2 linked regions of the Homo sapiens genome follow. The protein of the gene in region 2 binds, or shares a complex with, the protein of the main gene of each other region. Each region holds a gene or a part of one and is shown on either strand. Other genes may lie near its edges.

Region 1 (3,815 bases), on a different chromosome or scaffold from region 2:
AAAATATGTGAATCTCTAAAAGCCTCATTCTCTTCATCTGTAAAATGGTAATAGCATTTGTTTCAAAGGTGGGTTATGAGGATGAATTATGATTATGTAAGAGTTTAGCATAGTGTCTGGAAAATGTTGAGTGCTAACAAAAAGTTACTGTTTATTCATCATTATTATTTACAAAGGATAATCAAACTGAATCCAGAAAAATCCATGCATACTGAACGGGGAAAGATGCTTCCCGCCAGCCATTCCATAGTCTTTGATAATCTTCATAAGCCCATACAGTACTATACCAGGGAATTTATTAACAATTTGTCACCATTTCTGGAAGCCAGAATTTGGCCTATTTTGCTCTTGTTTGGGCCTTCTTGTGTAATCTTGGGCTACTGTTTGCCATACTATATAGTTTGGGTCCTTAAATCTCAATTCGTATCACTTTTTATACTACATACCTTCCACATCAAAGTACACCTACCTTCAACATCACTTATAAAGCAACAATTAGATCAAGAATATTAAGAATGTTCGAAGTAATTCACTGTTGATTACTTGATTACTGGTACTAGCAGGAAAGCAGAGCCATCTTATCCTTCATTGCAAAACCATGTTACGAGAATGCATCCCTCACAGTAAAACAGAAACATATGGCTCCAAAACCATGGCTTTCAATCTTAACACTGCCTTCCACCCACATCTAGCACTCCTGAGGTTAGACTCTGAGGACCCACCTAACTTGTATGTTTTAACAGATAAAGACTAATTATGATGAAGCCCCAGGAAGTACTTCTGCCTGTGAGATCATGTTTCAATCTTCTGCCTTCCCTGTTTTATCCAGCCATCTTAGAAACTGAGTAAGAAATACCCACAACCCTTTGTCCTTTACTGGTAATACTAGTTTAGGGAACTAGGATATAATTACTGATTCAGTTTTGTTCAACAAAGGTACTAAAATTTTCATTGGATGACTGCTTCAAACATTGCAAAATGTATAAAATTCTCCACTAAGGCACTAACTGCCAGAATGGCAGTACTAAAAACCCCACCTATTTCTAAATGCTGCAAAATAGGAGTGTGTTACTACCTTAGATTGAGAACCACTGCAATAAGTGATATGAGTCTCTCACCTGAAGCTGGGGAAAAACTCCACTACTGCGTAGAGAGAAAACTATAGAACTGAAGAATAACCTTGGACCCTGCCATACACGATCACAACATTCTTAACTAGGTCTTCCTACAATGATGTGTACCGCAGAACTTGCCCCAGTTTGAGGAATCTGTTTGAGGAGAAAGGGGATATCAGGTCCTATTTATAATATCTTTGAGATACCTTGGAACAATAACCAATGCACATATGAGAATCTCACTCAAAGCAATTATAGTTAGAATGACTGTATTTAGAATCCCCACTGTTCCAAAATTATCTCATTAAACCTTACATTTCCTGGATTCTGATCTTTAGGCTCACTTCAGATCATGTCTTTTGGTATTTCCCCACATTTGCTCTTGGTGTATTCTAGTCATGTTATAATATTAGCCATGACTCCCCATTTAGTACTTTGACTTCTGGACACACAGACCAGATTCACTGTTGATTTCTGGTACTAATCTGCATTTAGCCTGGCATGGTGGCTCATGCCTATAATCCCAGCACTTTGGGAGGCCGAGGCAGGAGGATCACTTGAGGTCAGGAGTTCGAGACCAGCCCTGGCAATGTAGCAAGACTCCATCTCTACAAAAAATAAAAAAAAAATTAGCTAGGCCTGGTGGCACATGCCTGTAGTCCCAGCTACTTGGGAGGCTGAGGTGGGAGGATTGCTTGAGCCTGGGAGGTCAAGGCTGCAGTGAGCCATGGTCATGCTACTGCACTCCAGCCTAGAAAACAGAGTGAGACCCTGTCTCAGAAAAAGAAAAAAATTACATTTGCTTCATTTTATTTAACTTAAGAACAACAGAATGTAGAATGTGTCCAGTCTTGAGCTCTGCTTAAGTGCTATGCCAATGAATACATGCTCTTACTGATAAATTAGATATTATTTGCAAAGCAGATAAAAGAATAAACAGTATCCCAGATGAAGAGAAGAAGCTGAGAAGCAGAAAATATGGGAACATGAAAGTTCTCCACATATTCAGGGAATGACACACTTAGTCTGTGTCAGAGTGGCCAGAGTGTATGAATGTGTATGCTGAAGCAGTGAGAGAGAGGGCTGTAAGGTAGAGTCGGGTCAAAAAGAGAAGGTCCATATATGCATCCTAATGAGTATAATCTCATTATATAAGTAATTGAGAGCCACTGGGCATATATAAGTAGGTAAATATTTTAGAAGAATTCTAATGATAGTAAGCAAAGTGGATTGATAGGAGGCAAGGAGATTTATTAAGTGGCTATTGCAATAGACAAGTAATGGATTTGTGGAACAGGGTAATAAAAGAGAAATGAATAGATTTCAGAGACATATAAGAGGTAGAATTAGCAAATCTGGTAAACAATGGGATATGGAATTAAAAGAGGCATCAAAGATGTTTTCTAATTCAGGCAATTGCAGAAAAAAAAAACTGGATAATAGAACAACTTTCACTTTTAAATATATTGACCTTAAAGTATCTATAGACTATCTAGTTAGCTATAGAAGCTCACCCAGGAAGAGGGTTAGAACCATAAACATAGATTTGACATAAATCAGAAAAAATGGAGGAGAAAAAACTTGGGGGAAGAACAGTGCTTACTTTAGATATTAAAGGAGCTAAAGTGATAATAATAATGAAACAGTTGAGTACATACTAAAGAAAGATAGATTATTGTCACAATTTGTTTCTTTTGACAATTTCCAATTCTTAGTGGTTTCTTATCAATGCTCTGGAATGCATTGCTCATCTGTAATAATTTCACTTGAGATCCTGGAGGGCTAGTTTAAATAATAAATTAAATAAAAACCAAACTGAGCAGAACAGATTGTAACTTGTCATAGAAATTTCCTGTTACAAGTAAGAAATATACACACTATTGATATACACACTTTTCATTTACTACTTTTTATTTCATAGGAATAAATAAAAACACTTCCTATTTCTGATTTAACTGATTAAAAAGTAAAATGGGTATCCCGAGTTTTTACTTTTAACTAAGTACTTCTGACCTTTAAAAGATATATTGGTTAGACAAATTTATATAGAAATTCATTTGATTAACAGACATGAGAACTCTGCAATTGAGAATCACTAATTTAAGGCAGGGGAAGAGAGATGGAAGTGGGAGGGAGAGGTGGAGAATAAGACATTATGGCAATTTCTTGTTTTCTTTAAAAGAAAAATTATGAAATTCATTTATCATTTATCTATTTTATAAGTGAATAAAAGTTAGAAAACTATCCAATATAACAAATGAAAAGATATTTCACTATGATATTAAAGGCAGGTATGTTAGTCAACAGTAAAAAGAGAAAGTACATAGGAAGAATGAGGTAATGGTCACTTGAGGACAATGAGAAGGAAAGACTAAGCAACAGAGAAATGCAGCTGGAAAGACAGATATGCACATATAAATATCGCCTCTGTACACATCTTATCCATGCGGTGGTTTAAGCTCACTCAGAAATTTTCTATATTTCCTTACCAGATCTCAACAAAGAGTGGGGCTTTGTATCTCACCACTTCTCAGTGCTGCATGGTATTTTAAAATGTTTGTCAATACATTGACAGACTAGTAAGGAATATTCATAATTTGTGTGTCACCAATCTTGTTTTATCTATATTAGAATTAGATAAAACTAAAAAGAGAAAAATGCACATAACATGGTCTGGTCTTTAGCAATAGAAATATTAAT
Region 2 (3,815 bases):
AACTCCTGGGCTCAAGCGATCCTCCTGCCTCAACCTCCCAAAGTGCTGGGATGACAGGCATGAGCCCCTGTGCCTGGCCCAGACCCGCCTCCTGTGCATTGGGTCCCTCGGTTAAGCAGGGGTCCCTGTAGCCCTGGCTGTAGGACCCTTGGATTTCCGTGTCTCCTTTGAAGCGGGCTCGGGAGATGCTCCCATCGCCACCAGCGCATTAGGCCTCCCGGTGGGCTCTATGGAGTGTGAAACACGAGGGAGGCACAGCCGCTCTCAGCTCCGCGTTCAGTCTTCGCGGCCTGGCATTTTGAGACAGGAGTGCGTCCTTTCAGATCCTTTCAGATCTTGGGTGGTGGCCTTTGGTTTCCGTTCAGCCCGTGGCGCACGGGTGGGCTGAGATGGCACACGCGCTTCTATGGCTTTGCCGCCTGGTGTCCCGCACCCCCAGCTTCCGTTAATTAATCCTCCTCATTTCACGAGGACCGACTCCCCACCTGCCGGTTCTCAGAGAGGGGAATCAGATGTGATCCCTGCTCGCCAAGGGCTGGCAGCCAGTAGAGCAAGGAGCCCGCCACCCCGCACCCCACACTGTCTGAGACCCACTGCAGCGCCCTCGGGCGCCATACCTGTTGGTGCTGCGGGAAGGGGCCTGTGACAGGGACAGCACTGTCGGGCAGCCTCCCACGCGGCCTCTCTCTGCCCCAGTTCCTGGCCATGGTGTTCCAGGACCTGCTGACCAACAAGGACGACTACCTGCGGGCCTCGCGGGCCCTGCTGCGGGAGATCATCAAGCAGACCAAGCACGAGATCAACTTCCAGGCCTTCTGCCTGGGGCTCATGCAGGAGCGCAAGGAGCCGCAGTACCTGGAGATGGAGTTCAAGGTGCCAGCCCTCGCCGCTGGGGCGCCTTTCCCTCACTGCGGGTTCCACGCGCCGCCATCCCCCTCGTCCTGGGTCCCATGCACACTCCACCCCTTCGGATGCTCTGGCTGAGCGTGGGTACGGGGATGAGTGAGGCTGTTTGCGGTGACGCGTCCCAGAGGGTAGCATAGGCTCTGTCCTGTGTGAGGACCTATGAGGGGCTGACCAAGCACAGGGGAACTGGCAACCCCTAGGCTGGATGGGATGAATTGCTGCCGGCAGCAAGGGGAGCACGGGAGCAGGGAGGCAGGGTGGGGCTGCGGGCTGCCTGGCTGGGTTGGAGACTTTTCGAGGGCTGTGGAGGGAGCTGGCGCTGGAAGGCACAGTGAGGGTGGATCACAGAGATGCCAGGTCCCTGCAGCCAACTCGCAGCCAGCCTGCCGGGGTGGCCTGTTTTGCGGACGGGGCTTTGTGGATCTCTGTTGACTGAACCTCCCTCCTGTGGCCAGACTAGGACCTTGTGGGCCACCGGCCCTGGTGCCCCTCCTGTCAGGCCCCTCTCCCAACTGGTCCTGGGCTCTCTCTCTGGATCCCTGCTTGTGTGTGTGTATGTGTGCGCATGTGCAAGTGTGTGCGTGCTGCACCCACGTGTTTGTGGAGTGGGGCTCCCGGGTGTCCCTTCTGGATACAGACCCCGTGCCGCGCCCACGTGGGTGTGGAGTGGGGCTCCCGGGTGTCCCTTCTGGATACAGACCCCGTGCCGCGCCCACGTGGGTGTGGAGTGGGGCTCCCGGGTGTCCCTTCTGGATACAGACCCCGTGCCGCGCCCACGTGGGTGTGGAGTGGGGCTCCCGGGTGTCCCTTCTGGATACAGACCCCGTGCTGCACCTGCAGGAGCGCTTCGTGGTGCACATCACCGACGTCCTGGCCGTGTCCATGATGCTGGGCATCACAGCGCAGGTGAAGGAGGCCGGCATCGCCTGGGACAAAGGAGAAAAGAGGAGTAAGGATGTGGGGGTGGCCTGGCCCTGCTTGGTGGGGGTCTCGGGTCCAGGCTGGTGGCTGGCGGCTCTCCGAGGCTGCACTGTCCCCTGAGCGCCCGGCAGGAGCGGTCCCGCAGCACGGCTACTCGGGGACACGGAGCCTGGAAGCTGCCGTCCCCGTTCCTGTCCATCCGGGCCTCACCCCAGCTGCAGGCTCAGACCCTGTTCCCATGAGCGTCCTTTGTGTGCTCCAGTTCTGGCCCAGCATGGGGGCATTGCAGGCGTGGTGGCCCCAGCCACGGGCGGGAGTGGGGAGGGGAGGTGGTGTTTGGGGCAGTCCGGGTGTTTGATTATGGGTTCACAGGAAGGCTGGGCCGCAGAAGCCCTCTAAGCCATTGACCGGAGCGAGTCACTCGGAACAGGAGGATTCCAGTCACCCACGCACGCGTCAGGGTCACTCCATGCCTCCCAGGGTGTTATTCCAGCTGGGAATCGTCCAGAAGCTGGGGGTGCCCTGAGTTACCCCCTCCCAAGTGCCAGCATTGAGTTGGACCCCCAGGGGTGCCTTAGCCCCTCATGGCCCATGGCTCGGATGGGCCACTAAGCTGCGTGTCTGTTTCAGACCTGGAAGTGCTCCGCTCATTCCAGAACCAGATTGCCGCCATCCAGCGGGATGCCGTCTGGTGGCTCCACACTGTGGTCCCCTCCATCAGCAAGCTCGCCCCTAAGGACTACGTGCACTGGTGCGGCTGGGGCCCTGTACAGCCCCTGTCCCACACCCCACTGAGCCGGGACAAGCCGGGGCCCCGCACAACCCCTGCCCCAAACCCCACTGAGCCAGGACAAGCCAGGCCCCGCACAGCCCCTGCCCCACACCCCACTAAGCCGGGACAAGCCAGGCCCCCACACGGGAGTCTGTCCCCTCTCTGCGGACAGCAGCAGCCGTTAGGCTCCAGGCAGGTCACCCTGTGCATTGGAGCCTCCCGTGGAGCCTCTGCCTTGGTTGGGGTGGGGCTGCCAGGCTGGGGCTGCATTTCTCTGCAGCGATTTTGTAAAGGGCTGTCCAGCCCGGCAGCCCCGTTCGGCCGCTGTGCAGCCTGGCAGCCCCGTGAGTGGTCCCTGGGTTCTTTGGTGGTGCTGTGAGGAGGTGCTGAGCTTGGGCACCAGGCAGCCCGGCCTCTGAGCGCTGGGGCCCGTGGGAGCGGGGTCCCTTCCCTGGAACTAACGGGGCTGGTCCCTGAGCACCCACATCATGACTGAGGGCTCTTCTCTGCCTGCCCAGCCTGCACAAGGTGCTGTTCACAGAGCAGCCGGAGACCTACTACAAGTGGGACAACTGGCCACCCGAGAGTGACCGCAAGTGAGTGCGCTGCCGCCTGGGGCTCCTGTGTGCCGGGCTGGGCGGGGCTGCGGGGTGCCGGGCCGGCTGCGGCAGGAAGGGCCAGTGGGAGTTGGGCGGCTGTTCCCATGGTCACAGCACCATCCTGCTCCTCCTCCACAATCCTGGGTGCCACCCTTCTCCCACTCCCATGCTGGCGTCCCAGCGCCACTGTAGGGATTCAGCTGCCGTCTGCGTCCACGTGACTCCAAGCCCCAGCCGCAGCCTCCCCCGGACCCCCGCCTTCCAGTTGCTTCCAGGGCGTCCACGGGCACGCCACCCTTCACGCAGTCTCAGATGCACCGTCTGCCCCTGCTTCTGTCCAGACAGCCGCACACTGTCCTTCCCCAGCCGGCTGGCCTCACAGCTCTGTCCCCCTTCAAGCCCCATGGGTGACCCCGTGGGTTCTTGGTCTACACTCCCCTCCAGCCCCGCCTGGGGCTCCTGCCAGTTCACCCTGCCCCCACCTCGTGCCCTGGGCGCTCTGTTCACCTTCACTGCGGCCTTCCGGTCAGGCTTTGGAGGTGTAGGGGTTATCTCTGTCTCCTGGCCCCCAGCTCCTTGAGGGCAAGAACCATCTAGAGGCCTCTGTGGGGTGGCAG

The links.
Region 1: INTS1 (region 2) and INTS12 share a complex: the UniProt entries of both Homo sapiens proteins name them as parts of the integrator complex.

The regions. Positions count from the first base shown.
Region 1 is NC_000004.12:105,688,013-105,691,827, forward strand, and holds part of INTS12 (integrator complex subunit 12), read right to left. Parts: intron 1,269-3,815; exon of another isoform or gene 1,119-1,268; intron 1-1,118. UniProt on the Homo sapiens protein: Component of the integrator complex, a multiprotein complex that terminates RNA polymerase II (Pol II) transcription in the promoter-proximal region of genes.
Region 2 is NC_000007.14:1,494,196-1,498,010, reverse strand, and holds part of INTS1 (integrator complex subunit 1), read left to right. Parts: intron 1-696; coding exon 697-873; intron 874-1,746; coding exon 1,747-1,855; intron 1,856-2,457; coding exon 2,458-2,578; intron 2,579-3,117; coding exon 3,118-3,195; intron 3,196-3,815. UniProt on the Homo sapiens protein: Component of the integrator complex, a multiprotein complex that terminates RNA polymerase II (Pol II) transcription in the promoter-proximal region of genes.